Regions from separate parts of the Homo sapiens genome. Here regions 2, 3 and 4 are each reported to be linked to region 1. Evidence: microRNA targets listed by miRTarBase, many of them from high-throughput screens and not tested one by one. Region 1 holds a microRNA gene; each other region holds the end of a gene's coding sequence. Distances are between the middles of the regions.
The links. Region 1 holds the annotated microRNA hsa-miR-3622b-5p (AGGCAUGGGAGGUCAGGUGA, at 2,174-2,193, shown strand). A microRNA usually pairs through its seed, bases 2 to 8, with sites in the 3' UTR of a target mRNA and lowers its output. Matches are read on the target gene's strand: a 7mer-m8 pairs with bases 2 to 8, a 7mer-A1 pairs with bases 2 to 7 and ends in A, and an 8mer does both.

Region 2: miRTarBase lists PARVB as a target of hsa-miR-3622b-5p. The part of its 3' UTR that is shown has no 7-base or 8-base seed match.
Region 3: miRTarBase lists EBAG9 as a target of hsa-miR-3622b-5p. Seed matches in the 3' UTR shown: 7mer-A1 at 576-582.
Region 4: the mRNA of TAS2R5 is a reported target of hsa-miR-3622b-5p. The part of its 3' UTR that is shown has no 7-base or 8-base seed match.

Annotation. Positions count from the first base shown.
Region 1 is chr8:27,700,794-27,703,918 of GRCh38, reverse strand. It overlaps MIR3622B (microRNA 3622b), which reads left to right and starts at 2,152; the gene lies at 2,152-2,246. MIR3622A (microRNA 3622a) reads right to left here and starts at 2,242; the gene lies at 2,160-2,242. LOC124901920 (a long non-coding RNA gene) reads right to left here and starts at 2,949. Exons shown (of 2, transcript XR_007060869.1): 1 at 1-2,949. It also overlaps a transcript of SCARA3 not described here. RefSeq lists a silencer at 640-785.
Region 2 is chr22:44,168,158-44,171,282 of GRCh38, reverse strand. PARVB (parvin beta) reads right to left here. Exons shown (of 13, transcript NM_013327.5): 13 at 1-2,681. The coding sequence ends at 2,605. Among named protein-coding and RNA genes, the nearest start is that of PARVG, 11 kb to the left of the region's middle. RefSeq lists enhancers at 665-1,186, 3,077-3,125.
Region 3 is chr8:109,564,003-109,567,127 of GRCh38, forward strand. EBAG9 (estrogen receptor binding site associated antigen 9) reads left to right here. Exons shown (of 7, transcript NM_004215.5): 7 at 437-1,994. The coding sequence ends at 557. Among named protein-coding and RNA genes, the nearest start is that of EBAG9, 25 kb to the left of the region's middle.
Region 4 is chr7:141,790,685-141,793,809 of GRCh38, forward strand. It overlaps TAS2R5 (taste 2 receptor member 5), which reads left to right. Exons shown (of 1, transcript NM_018980.3): 1 at 1-683. The coding sequence ends at 577. Among named protein-coding and RNA genes, the nearest start is that of TAS2R5, 2.0 kb to the left of the region's middle.

The DNA of each region.
Region 1 (3,125 bases):
TTTCCATTATGTTTTTTTCCCCACAGGTATTTTTTTCTCACTGTAAAAAAAAAAAAAAAAAAAAAAAAAAAAAAGTAGAAAGCACAGGTAAGCAAAAAACAAAAAACCACACACAAAACCACAAACTTTAAGTTACCCACAATCACATTGTTGCCATTTTGCTGTAGGTTCTCCCAGATTTCTGTCCAAGAATGAACCCTCCAGAACCTCCTAGGAGATTCTTTCCAGGTCCGGAGTCCTGGGTTTGTAGTTCAAGCCCCATCTTGAAGGTGCTGTGCAACCTTGAACAGATCCCCCCCAACCCTAGTCTCAGTTTATCCAGACTGCACCTGCATCCTGGGAACAGGCATGGCTGTGCGTTTGATAACCACACCCATTGCCGGTTGGGAGACCAGGTTTTTCTCTCAAGGGAGCCGCAGTCTGTTGCCTTTTGCCACCATTTTGCAAATCAGATCTCAATTCTGGGCCCACCCAGCCACCCCATCCTGTCCCCTCCAGCCTCACCCTGACTTCTCAGCTTTCACTTTTTTCTGCTGATGGGTTGGAAATTGCTACTCTCCTGTTTTCTCTCCACCTGCACTAACAAACCCCAAGTGCTGCCCCCAGCACGAATCCCTGGTTCCCGGGTCCTCTGCCAGGTGCAGGTGCTGCGGCTTCATGTTCAAAGGATTCTGGGCACTGCGCTTTCTCCCTTGATGTGCCCAGCCAGGCTGCGGGGATGGGAGGCTCCTCTCCTGTGCGGCTCAGGCTGTTTTTCTCCCCAGAGCCTTGTGGCCAAGTTTCCGTGGCCCTGTGCTCTGGACCCTGGGCCAGGGCTGTGGTGTGGGCAGCCTTGAGGCCCTGGGTTCCATGCCAGTTCTCGACAGGAAGGCCTTTCATGTGGGTGCCAGCTGGCCTCTGGGCCCAGCTTCGGGCCTGGCAGGGCCTGAGGAGGGAGAGCTGCGAGTGTGAAAAACACTTTCTGTTTGGGAGCTGGTTGGTGGGAAGGAAAGACAAGAGGGAGGGGGACAGGCAGGTCAAAGAGCTTACCCAGGTTTAGAGGAGCGAGGCCAAGGTGCCCCTGTAGAAATGAGGCGATTCGGCCTTTCCTCCCCAAAAAGAGGTCTTGGCAGAGATACAAGGAAGCAAAGTCTGTTGGGTGGGGATGGAAAACACTTTCCCAAGCCTGCCTTCACTCCCTCCCTCCCCCGGGCTCACTGAGCCTAATCAGGTCAAGCACGCAGCTCCCTGCCAGACACTGTGGCATTGTTTAAAGCCGCTGCCTCCCCAGTACCCTCTCCCCACAGAACTGAGTTCTGACAAAGGAGGCCCTGAGGGACAGGGCTGAGAGGACAGAGACCCAAGGTCCAGGGACGCGTCACTCCCCTATGGCTCGCTCTCCTTCCCACTGGTTATTGTTTTTCTACCCTGGACCCCAGGGAGAAAAGGAGCCAGGCCCTGGCAAACCTGAAGGCTGTTTGTGTTGACATAAAGGCACTTTCTGAGCAAACAGCACTGAAAGGTCAGCAGTAACCCCAGGCAGTGCCAGGACTGGGCAGCGGGTTTGGGAGGTGTGGAGAGAAAGGAAACTGTGGGCCACTTGGGGTCGGATGACTTCACCAGAAGAAGAAGAAAAGCCAGCCAGGCTGCAGGGAGGGGGCTTCCTGGAGATGGAGCCCTGGAAGACCTTGGCTACCCCATAAAACTTAAATAGGACTTGAAGTCAGTTGTTTATCTGCTTTCCAGAACACCAATGACATGGGAGAGAGGCTGGCGCCCTAGGCAGGACCCAAGCGAGCCTGGTGTCTGGGGCAGGATCTGCCACTACGCTTGGCTTTCTCACTGTAGGACTCAGTTTGCATGGGAAACCAAAGGAGAATTTCAAGTGTCCTACTCACACATATTCTAGCCTTTCAGGAAACATTTACTGAGCATACATCACCCACCTGATAGGGGGCTAAGCCTGGGAATGCTTTCAGAGATGAGTAGCACAAGGTCTCAGATAAGGTGACCCATTTTCCCCGTTTGCCTGGGCCTCCCAGTTTTAGCACTGAACATCCCTTAGCTCAGGAAGCCCAGGAAACCCTTTGGTTTGGGGCATACTTGGTTGGTTGGTCACCCTAGCATCAGTCATCAAGCAGCTCACGATCTGCAAACAATGGTAGACATACGAGTGATATAATAGAGGGTGCACAGGCATGGGAGGTCAGGTGAGCTCAGCTCCCTGCCTCACCTGAGCTCCCGTGCCTGTGCACCCTCTATTGGCTATGATCACACCACTGCACTCCAGCCTGGGTGACAAAACAAGACCTTGCCACTAAAAAAAAGAGAAAGAAAGAAAAGAAAGAAAGAGAGAAAGAGAAAGAAAGAGAGGAAGGAAGGAAGGAAAGAAAAAGCTACTTTTTGAATGAAAGAATGAAAAAGCATCTCTCAGCTAGGAAATGTCTTGCCATGATGACACCTGTGTTCAATGGGGAGCTACGAGAACATTTTAAAAAAATCTACTGTACTGAGGCATAATTTACATATAATACAATGCATACACTTCAATGTAGACTTTGATGAATTTTAACAAATATATACACTCAGTAACTGTTAAATCAATCAAAATATTTATAGCACCCCAGAAACTTCCCTATTTCTCTTTTGTAGTTAATCCCATCCTAACCATCCCATCCCAGGTAACCACTTACCTGATTTCTGTAACTATAGATTCATTTTAGTTTTTCTAGAACATCATCTCAATGGAATAATACAGTCTGTACTCTTTTGAGTGACTTCCTCTACTCAATGTGCTTTTGAGATTTATCCAAGTTGGTTTGCATATCACTAGTTTTTTTGTTTTTTTTTTACTGGTGAGTATGGATTTATCATAATTTTTCCATGCATTTGCCTATTGATGAACATTTGACTTGTTTCCAGTTTTTTGCTATTCTGGACAATGCTGTTGTGAATAGTATGTACAAATTTTGGTATAGAAAAACATTTTCATTTCTCTTGGGTAAAAACCCAGAAGTGAAATTGCTGGATCATAGGTTAAGTATGTGTTCAGATTTATAGGAAATCACCTAACTTTTCCAAAAGGGTTGTACCACTTCACAGTTTCACCATTAATGCATGAGAGTTCTCGTTGCTCCACATCCTCA
Region 2 (3,125 bases), not on the chromosome of region 1:
CCCAAGTGATCCACCTGCCTCAGCCTCCCAAAGTGCTGGGATTACAGGCGTGAGCCACCGCACCTGGCCAAGCTCTGTTCTTTTCAAATCCCAATCCCTGGGAAGGCACAGTGCCCTCTCCAGGTCCACCTGTGAGCAGGGCAAGGCTGGGCCACTCCACCAGCTCCAGGGGGCCGCGGTCCTGTACATGCCATGCAGGCAGCACAGAACGTTCCAGCCCCAGGCTTTTTGTCAGTGTGGCTTTTGAATGTCACTGCATCCCGCAAGAGACACCGTAATGCTGTTTTAATTATTTCTTTCCCCTGCTGGGAAATCACCTCCATCAAAATGGCTATTCTGAACCCATCCCCAGCCTAGCAACAGCCGGAACTGAGAGGGAATATTAAACTGTTTTCTAAAACTTCGGTGTTGGCATTCGATTTCATATCAAAACTTACTCCAAAGCTCTGATCTGCGGCAGGAAGACAAAAAGCTAACAAGATCAGAAAGGCCAGGCTCACTACGGAGAATGCTGAGAGATGCCAAGGAAGGGGGCTGCTTTGCAGCAGGTGCACCCCAGGGGGTCAGCGGGTCATCACCCTGGGAAGGAGCTGGGGGAGGGGGGGGCGCCACAGCGAGGGACTGACTGCGACCAGAGGCCAGCCCAGAAAGCATGGCCGATGGGATCCCCAGTTCTCTGCAGAGCTGGGGTGAGCGAGGGGGTGAACAACCCATAACTGAGTGAGCAGCGACTCCTTTTATAGGATACTCTAAGGGAGATGCTCTCAGGGCTACAGGGAGAGTAACATGAACACTTCATATCCTCCCGGTACAAGGCAAATTATGCCCCCCACAAATCCACATGCTGAAGTCCTAACCCCAGCACCTCTGATGTGATGGTATTTGGAGACAGGGTCTTTATGGAGGTAATCAAGATTAAATGAGGTCATATAAGTGGGCCCTAATCCAATAGGACCGCAGCCCTTCTAAAAAGAGGGGTGCAGGCTGGGCATGTCCGCTCATGCCTATAATCCCAGCACTTTGGGAGGCTGAGGTGGGTGGGTCGCTCAAGCCCAGGGGTTTGAGAACAGCCTGGGCAACATGGTGAAACCCCATCTCTACAAAAAATACAAAAATTAGATGGGCCTAGTGGTGTGCACTTGTGGTCCCCGCTACTTGGGAGGCTGAGGTGGGAGGATCAATTGAGCCTGGGAGATCAAGGCTGCAGTGAGCTGAGATGGCACCACTTTACTCCTGGGTGACACAGTGAGAACTTGTCTCAAAAAAAAAAAAAAAAATAGGCTGGGCACAGTGGCTCACGCCTGTAATCCCAACACTTTGGGAGGCTGAGGCAGGCAGATCATGAGGTCAGGAGATCAAGACCATCCTGGCCAACATGGTGAAACCCCGTCTCTACTAAAAATACAAAAATTAGCCAGGTGTGGTGGCACCTGCCTGTAATGCCAGCTACTTGGGAGGCTGAGGCAGGAGAATCGCTTGAACCTGGGAGGCAGAGGTTGCAGTGAGCTGAGATCACACCACTGCACTCCAGCCTGGTGACAGAGCGAGACTCTGTCTCAAAAAATAAAAACAAAAATAAAAAATAAAATAAAAGAGGCGGTGAGGACACAGACACACAGAGGGGAGACCATGTGAAGACACGGGGAGAAGCCGGCATCTACAAGCCAAGGCGAAAGGCCTGAGGATGTAATTCTCTGATGTCTGAGCCACTCCCCTGTGGCACTTTACTACACAGTGCCAGTGAACCAATGCACCCCCCTCATTTTAAAGTTTCCAAAGATGCATTCATTCCCAAAAAGGGCCTCTGAAGGGGAAAGCTGTGACCCAAGCTGTCTCAAGCAGCACAATTAGAGCCATCTCCAGACCCAGCCCCTCAACCACAGCAAGAAATTAAGAAACGTCCCCAGCAGACAGCTCCTTTCAAGGACTGTGGGAGCTGGGCCATCCTGAGTCTTGGATGTTTGTGCAAAACCTACATTAAAACGAGTGACCAAGAAGTGATAGGAATGTGGGTGGAGGACACCCATGTCACATCTAAGCTTCTGGGACTTTAAAGTTTTTCAAACTGCAAAACCCTTTTATTTTTAATAAAAGGCCTCACTTCCAAGGAGAGCCCAGCCCAGGAGATCCCCGGTGAATCGTCAAGCCTGGGTCCTCGGGGAGCCGGCGTTCCTGCTGAGCTGATGTTGTACTTCTGAAGGCCTGTGATCGCTAACTGCACCATGAGGCAGAATGCAGGGTGCTCTCAACCAGCTGGGGGTTGGGGTTCAGGCTTTTTTTCATCTTTCGGCCAAGGCAGACAACAACGGACTCATCATCCCACGCGACTGAGTGACGCGAGGCTTCAAACGCAAGCACGAGTGTTTAGAATCCTGCATTTTCAAAGGCTCTTGCCCACTGGGAACTACATGGAGAGGAGATTAAGAACAACAACCAAAAGAGGCAGGGGGTGGGGCAGGCGTGAGGTAGGGGTGGGGTGGGGATGACAGTCAACACAGCTTGGACCAGAAGCCCATGGCGCCTGGCTCCCTGGAAAGGCACAGGGCACAGACGGATGCCGCCTTTCTTGCTGGGACACTCCTGCCACCATCCACAGCTCCCCCGTCACTCCACGTTCTTGTACTTGGTGAACAGGTTGTAAAGAACCCTCAGGGTGGATTTGAGGTCCAAGTTAACCACGTCTGCAGAAGGAAACAGAGAAACTTCAGAGGCGTGCCATCCTCCTGTCATTGCGGTAGGTACTCTCAGAAGCCACGTCTCCAGCATGACACCAGCTGCCGCATCCACACACAGCGCTTCCCCTTAAAGACTGGCCACCACCATGTCCAGGACGCTCTGGGCAGTGCCTCCCCAGACACACAGGTTTTGTGAGAGCTCCTGGCGCGGGCTGACACCCTGCGGGGACAGGCACCTGGGGTGACAAGAACAGAGACACTCCCACAGCCCCTCCTGGATCTGCATCAGGACATGTCTAAGAACCGGTTGGGGGACATGGCTAATGACACTTACCGGGACCAAAAACCCCAGTAACACTTAATGGACCCGACAGCTCCCTCTGGGGCCCTGGAAGTCTTGGGCCACTTTCTTTATGTGGACAAGAACCTTCCTGGGAATCAGACACCTTG
Region 3 (3,125 bases), 82 Mb from region 1:
GTAACTACTATAATAACAGGAGATTATCAAGCTCAATATCAAGCTTTTCTGAATGGTATCCCCAGAAAAAGATGTGGTTCAATGGAAGTATTGTTTTACAAAATGGAGATAATCTAAATAAGAAGTGTCAGAAGATGTGAGTTCTTATCCCTGTACTTAATCCTATGACTTCGGGCAAGTCACTTAGCCTTTATGCCTCATTTTACTTATTTGTAAAATAGAGATAATATTTCTTCTATTTCACAAGTCACGTTCTAAGGACTAAGAGAAATCCTGTTTTTGAAAATATTTGGAATTTTCAAATTAGTGAGAAAATTTTAAGACTTTCAACATTTTATTTGGTGATAATAAAAAGGCACTGCTATTTCTTTCTAGAATTTATTTGCCATTTTACCTGTTTGGTATTTTCTAAAAGTAAAAGTATGTTTCTTTTCAGACAGCAGAAACTAGCAGACAGAGAAAAGAGAGCAGCCGAACAACAAAGGAAGAAAATGGAAAAGGAAGCACAACGGCTAATGAAGAAGGAACAAAACAAAATTGGTGTGAAACTTTCATAACACATGTTCAAATTTTATCATGCCAGTAGGAGAAATCTCAGCTCCACAACCCAAGCAACATTTGTATGGATTTAAGAGTATTTTAAGAAGACATACTGCTTGATTTTAATACATTGATCAGGCCATCCAGGACACCACGATTCTCCCAAAGTACCTTGAACTCTTAGTGATTGAGACTCAAAAAAACAAAAAAGACTTGAGACAATGTTTTCTTCAACATGCTCCAAATATAAGACATTTGTTTGCTGTACAGAAAGTATCACAAATGGAATATATCAGTACCTCTCAAGCTAGTGTTTCTAGCTAAATAAATGGGTGTATATAATTTTATGGTGGAAAAGAACTGTACTGTCTGTTATGATTTCCTTCAATGTGCATAATGATAAAATAAATAATTTTAATATTCTTTTGTTTCCATGGTTACCTGACCTAAATTAGATAAATTGTAGGGCTTTAGCTTTCTTATTTTTGTCAAAAGTTGGTGTTGACATACATTCCCTCTAATTTGAACTGGTATTGTTTACGTTTGATACAACATTAAGGAATTTGATGATTTTCATTTCATGAAAATGACATTAAATGCAATAATTTTACTTATCATAAACATTTTGTACATCATTATTTTCTTTTGGATTAGTGTTGTCATACATGTAATTTATATCACATGTATAAACATTGAAAATCAACTAAAATGACATTTGTTCTACATTATAACTTGTGAGTTTCAAGAACTAGTATTAGTAGTTTTTTCCTTTCATTATAGATTGTAAGATGTTGTGGTATCTTTGAGTGCCTTAGTTCTTCCTTCCTCCCAAAAGCCATTAATTTACAAATGCTTAAAGCCATCAGGTCAAATATTTCAAAGCCTTTAGATGATTTCTGTACTAGCTTTAGATGTCTGACGTTATGTAGGTTACCTGTGTTCTTGGCTAGGAAAACATTATTGATTCATTAAATCATAAAGGTGGGAATAATAATCTTTTATTTATGATGTTGATTGGCTCCAAAATAGTCTTAAGGAAATAAATACTGGGTCTGTAGGGGAAAAGTAGACTTCATAGTTTAAAATCCCATTAACCTTTTCACCGCAGTTGAAATGCATCCAGCCTGATTTTCCTATCATTTTGGAATTTTTAAGGATTTTTACTTTCTTAAGTTACTGCCTAGAATCAACATTCGGTGAGATTTTGAAATGTCATAGATACTGTACAGGCCAAACCTTACTAATTTATTTTACTTAAAGTGATATTTTATAGAAAAATCATAAGTTATACAATGAGAACCCTTTAAGCCCTTAGCCTAAGCTTTCAGACTAAATGTGATTATAGAATAAGATGAAAGTTAACTTTGGTACAGAGCTTTTTATAGCCCCAAATTATATTTCCAGTTATTATATTCATTAGAATTTCTGCTAATAAACTCCCAACTTAAATAGAATTGGGCTCAAAGTTTTAATAATGTATTCTCTTCCTTCTTTGTATTTATAGTTAGTTATTATGGGAATACAACATATCTTCTCTAAATTTGGAATTCATAAAGGATAACTTCCTTTAGCTCAATTACTTGTATTGCTTTTCCCTAGTAGCTGAAAAGTATTTAAGTTTGGTTTGGTCATGATTTTCATGTGTTTGAGGTTTTTGTTGTTGTTGTTTGGCTTTTTGGTTTTTGATTATTTAAAAATAAAGACATTAGCAATTATAGTTAGTATGATTAGGAAGAAATAGATTTTTCTTGTGGAAAGAATAGATAACAATTCTGGAATTTATTTTATCTCTATTGATGTGTAAACTAAATTCCTGTATTAACTTGGGTATATTTTGGTCCCAAAAGTAGTCACTGAGTTAAATGCATATGACAAACAATTCATGGTAGCATACTGTCTCTTTTAGCTACTAAATTTATGGTTTCTATTTTTTGTTTTCTTGATTTCAATAAAGAATTGTCAGTTTTAGATGCTTATTAGAAATAATAAGAAATACTGGTAGGCATAGATAGAATTAGTGAAGTTTTAACCATTAGCAAAATCGTGCATTTCATGTACTGAGATAACAAGTAATCAAAGACATGGGAAACTTACCTTGTGTTTTTTTTTGTTTTGTTTTGTTTTTTATGTAGTAATTTCATGGTTTCTAGCCATTTCCTCTTCTTAAGCTTTACCTAGGGATATTCTCTACTTGGCTCTTCTTTTAGTATAGCATGTTTAATTGAGTTGACATTTTAGAACTGAAAATTTGAAATTCTGCATCCGAATTTCTCAGTTTTGACATGCACTTGCCTCTGGGTGATTATTTCTAGGTTGTTTCTACATGAAGATTGGTGATTGGGCAGAAGGTACCTACAGAAACCAGCATCTGGATCGAGCTTCCAACACCACTCTACAAGCTACCACCATGGCGTAAACCTAACCATAGTCAGTGTTCCAAAAAGCCTGAATTTTGTTGAGAATGGTATGTTTACTAAAGGATGGTTTGAGCCAGACAGAGCTAACATACTCATCTTGTTTGATCCTATGAAGTTCAGATTTGGAATAACCAACGATGGTTTTCATACTCCTTAAACCCCTTGCTC
Region 4 (3,125 bases), not on the chromosome of region 1:
GACCTTCGATCGCCCGGCCTACTTGTGGCTGAAGCAGAGGGCCTATAACCTGAGTCTCTGGTGCCTTCTGGGCTACTTTATAATCAATTTGTTACTTACAGTCCAAATTGGCTTAACATTCTATCATCCTCCCCAAGGAAACAGCAGCATTCGGTATCCCTTTGAAAGCTGGCAGTACCTGTATGCATTTCAGCTCAATTCAGGAAGTTATTTGCCTTTAGTGGTGTTTCTTGTTTCCTCTGGGATGCTGATTGTCTCTTTGTATACACACCACAAGAAGATGAAGGTCCATTCAGCTGGTAGGAGGGATGTCCGGGCCAAGGCTCACATCACTGCGCTGAAGTCCTTGGGCTGCTTCCTCTTACTTCACCTGGTTTATATCATGGCCAGCCCCTTCTCCATCACCTCCAAGACTTATCCTCCTGATCTCACCAGTGTCTTCATCTGGGAGACACTCATGGCAGCCTATCCTTCTCTTCATTCTCTCATATTGATCATGGGGATTCCTAGGGTGAAGCAGACTTGTCAGAAGATCCTGTGGAAGACAGTGTGTGCTCGGAGATGCTGGGGCCCATGATCTGGGAAGAAAAGTGTGGTCAGGACACTCTTGGGACGCTCTTTTGATAGCTCTCTATAAGGGAGCTGCTTTCCATGTCTTTTAAGATTTTCCTTCTTTTACACCAATGTAATGAATGAGCAACAGAAAATACGGATCAAAACCCAATACTATGTCTCTTTTGGCAATGCAAAGTATATTTTTTTAATGTACCACAGAAATCAAGGCTAGGGCTTCATGTTTGGTAAAAGAGGTATTATATTCTCTCTACATATAGCAAATAATTCATATATAAATCGTGTTTTTCCTATTATAAAAAGCAGAGATTAGGAACAATTCTGTCTACATATAGCAAAAATTCATATATAAATTGTGTTTTTCCTAGTATAGAAAACAGAGATTAGGAACAATTATAGTGATCATTAATTTTTATGAAATTTTACCTATACATTAATGTTAGTCATTTTAGATATGCTTTTTAAAAAGTATCAAATAATTTCCCCATTTCTCTGCTGTAATGTATCTAATTATCTAACTGAAAAACAAAACAAAACATCTTTATATTTCTGGAAGTTTCTTTGAGCCCTAGCCTTGGCTTTCAGAATAAAAATCAGGCTCACGCCTGTAATCCCAGCGCTTTGGGAGGCTGAGGCGGGCGGATCACGAGGTCAAGAGATCAAGACCAAATTAGCCGGGCGCGGTGGCGGGCGCCTGTAGTCCCAGCTACTCGGGAGGCTGAGGCAGGAGAATGGCGTGAACCCGGGAAGCGGAGCTTGCAGTGAGCCGAGATTGCGCCACTGCAGTCCGCAGTCCGGCCTGGGCGACAGAGCGGGACTCCGTCTCAAAAAAAAAAAAAAAAAGAGATCAAGACCATCCTGGCTAACATGATTAAACCCCATCTCTACTAAAAATACAAAAAATTAGCCTGGTGTGTTGGCGGGCACCTGTAGTCCCAGCTACTCGGGAGGCTGAGGCGGGAGAATGGCATGAACCCAGGAGGTGGAGATGGCAGTGAGCCGAGACCATGCCACTGCACTCCAGCCTGGGCAACAGAGCGAGATGCCGTCTCAAAAAAAAAAAAAAAAGCAGAATAAAAGTCAGTTGGATGCCATGATCTGTATTAAGCTCCAAGGCCCAGGAACTGAAGTGGGGCAATATGAGAATGAGGGGCACTTGATTCTGCTTAAAAAAAATAGACTGCCTTTGAAGAGGTCACGCTGTCTGCTCTTCAGTCATTTAGCCATTTTGCCTGTCTACTGTGGCCTCACCACAGCCTACAGTCAGAGTTCTAGTGTGCCAGGTCTTTGAGTTGGAGGGAGATCATTTAGAATGCCAGATCCATGGCAGTAGGAACTGTGTCTGTTTTTATTTTCTCCCACGTCTCTGTGACTAGAACACTGCCTATTGCATAATAAACGCTTAATAAATATTTTGTAAATGACTGAATAGCTGTGCTAACTGGTTTTACAATGCCTCCTTTGTATTGTAGGTAGAGAAACTGATGCCCAGAGAGGGGCAGTGGCCTGCCCTGGGTTTCATAGAGAGCCTGTGGCAGTGCTGGGACTAGAGCTGTTTCTTGACTCCTGGTGCAGGGCTCTTTCCTTTACAACATGCTACTTTCCTAATGTCCTTCCCTCCTTGGAACCCCATGCCTCTTTCTACAGACCCTTCTACACAACTTATTCTCTTCCTTCTTTCTAGCCTTCTTTGTTTCAGTTCCAGGGGGATCTGAAATCCAAAGGACAACACTTGGCATTCTTAAATATTTTTTTTTCACTTCCTATGGATCACACTAATCTACTTTCATTAATCTATTCTCTCAAACATATCTTTTTCTTACCTGAATCTGAGAATTGAGGTACATGCTAGGCACATGTGGATATTAGTCATCACACAGGGGGAGATTGGTTCCACTGTCACTGTGAGTTGTGTGAGGTCAAGTACCATATTTTATGTCCTGGGAAGGATCATATTCATTCTTTTTAAATAGAAAGGTGCTTCTGCTTGGTTATATTTTTGTTAGTAGGATGAATTTTCATTATACCATTTCTATTTTTTTTACAGATGTCCTTTGTGACCAATTGTTGTAATAGTGACAATAGTATTTAACATTTGTATTGGGCTTTACATTTTACCAGACAATCTCATATATAGTCCATTATCTCATTTGATTTTAATAGCAACTCTATGCAGTAACCAATTTTATCCCCAATTCACAGGTGACAAAACTCAGGCTGGAGTGATGGTTTGCCCAGGATCATGAACTTGTAAATAATGCAGATGGAGCAGACCCAAATTTTTTGACTCCGAGTCTTGTGCTCTTTCCAGTAAATCCTAAGTATCTCATTGTTCATACTTGTAAGACTTCAAACTAGGATTAGCCTGTGGAACTTCCCTCAAGTTTATGAGTATTTTTACACACATGCAATAAGCAACTAATCTTTCAAATTTGGTATTGATGGGATGCCTGGGTGCTAAGATCCAAAATCACAACAGATCAAAGTTTATGATCTGCTTTTCTTAGTGACAAGGTATGGAATCAACCTAAGTGTCCATCAACACATGAACA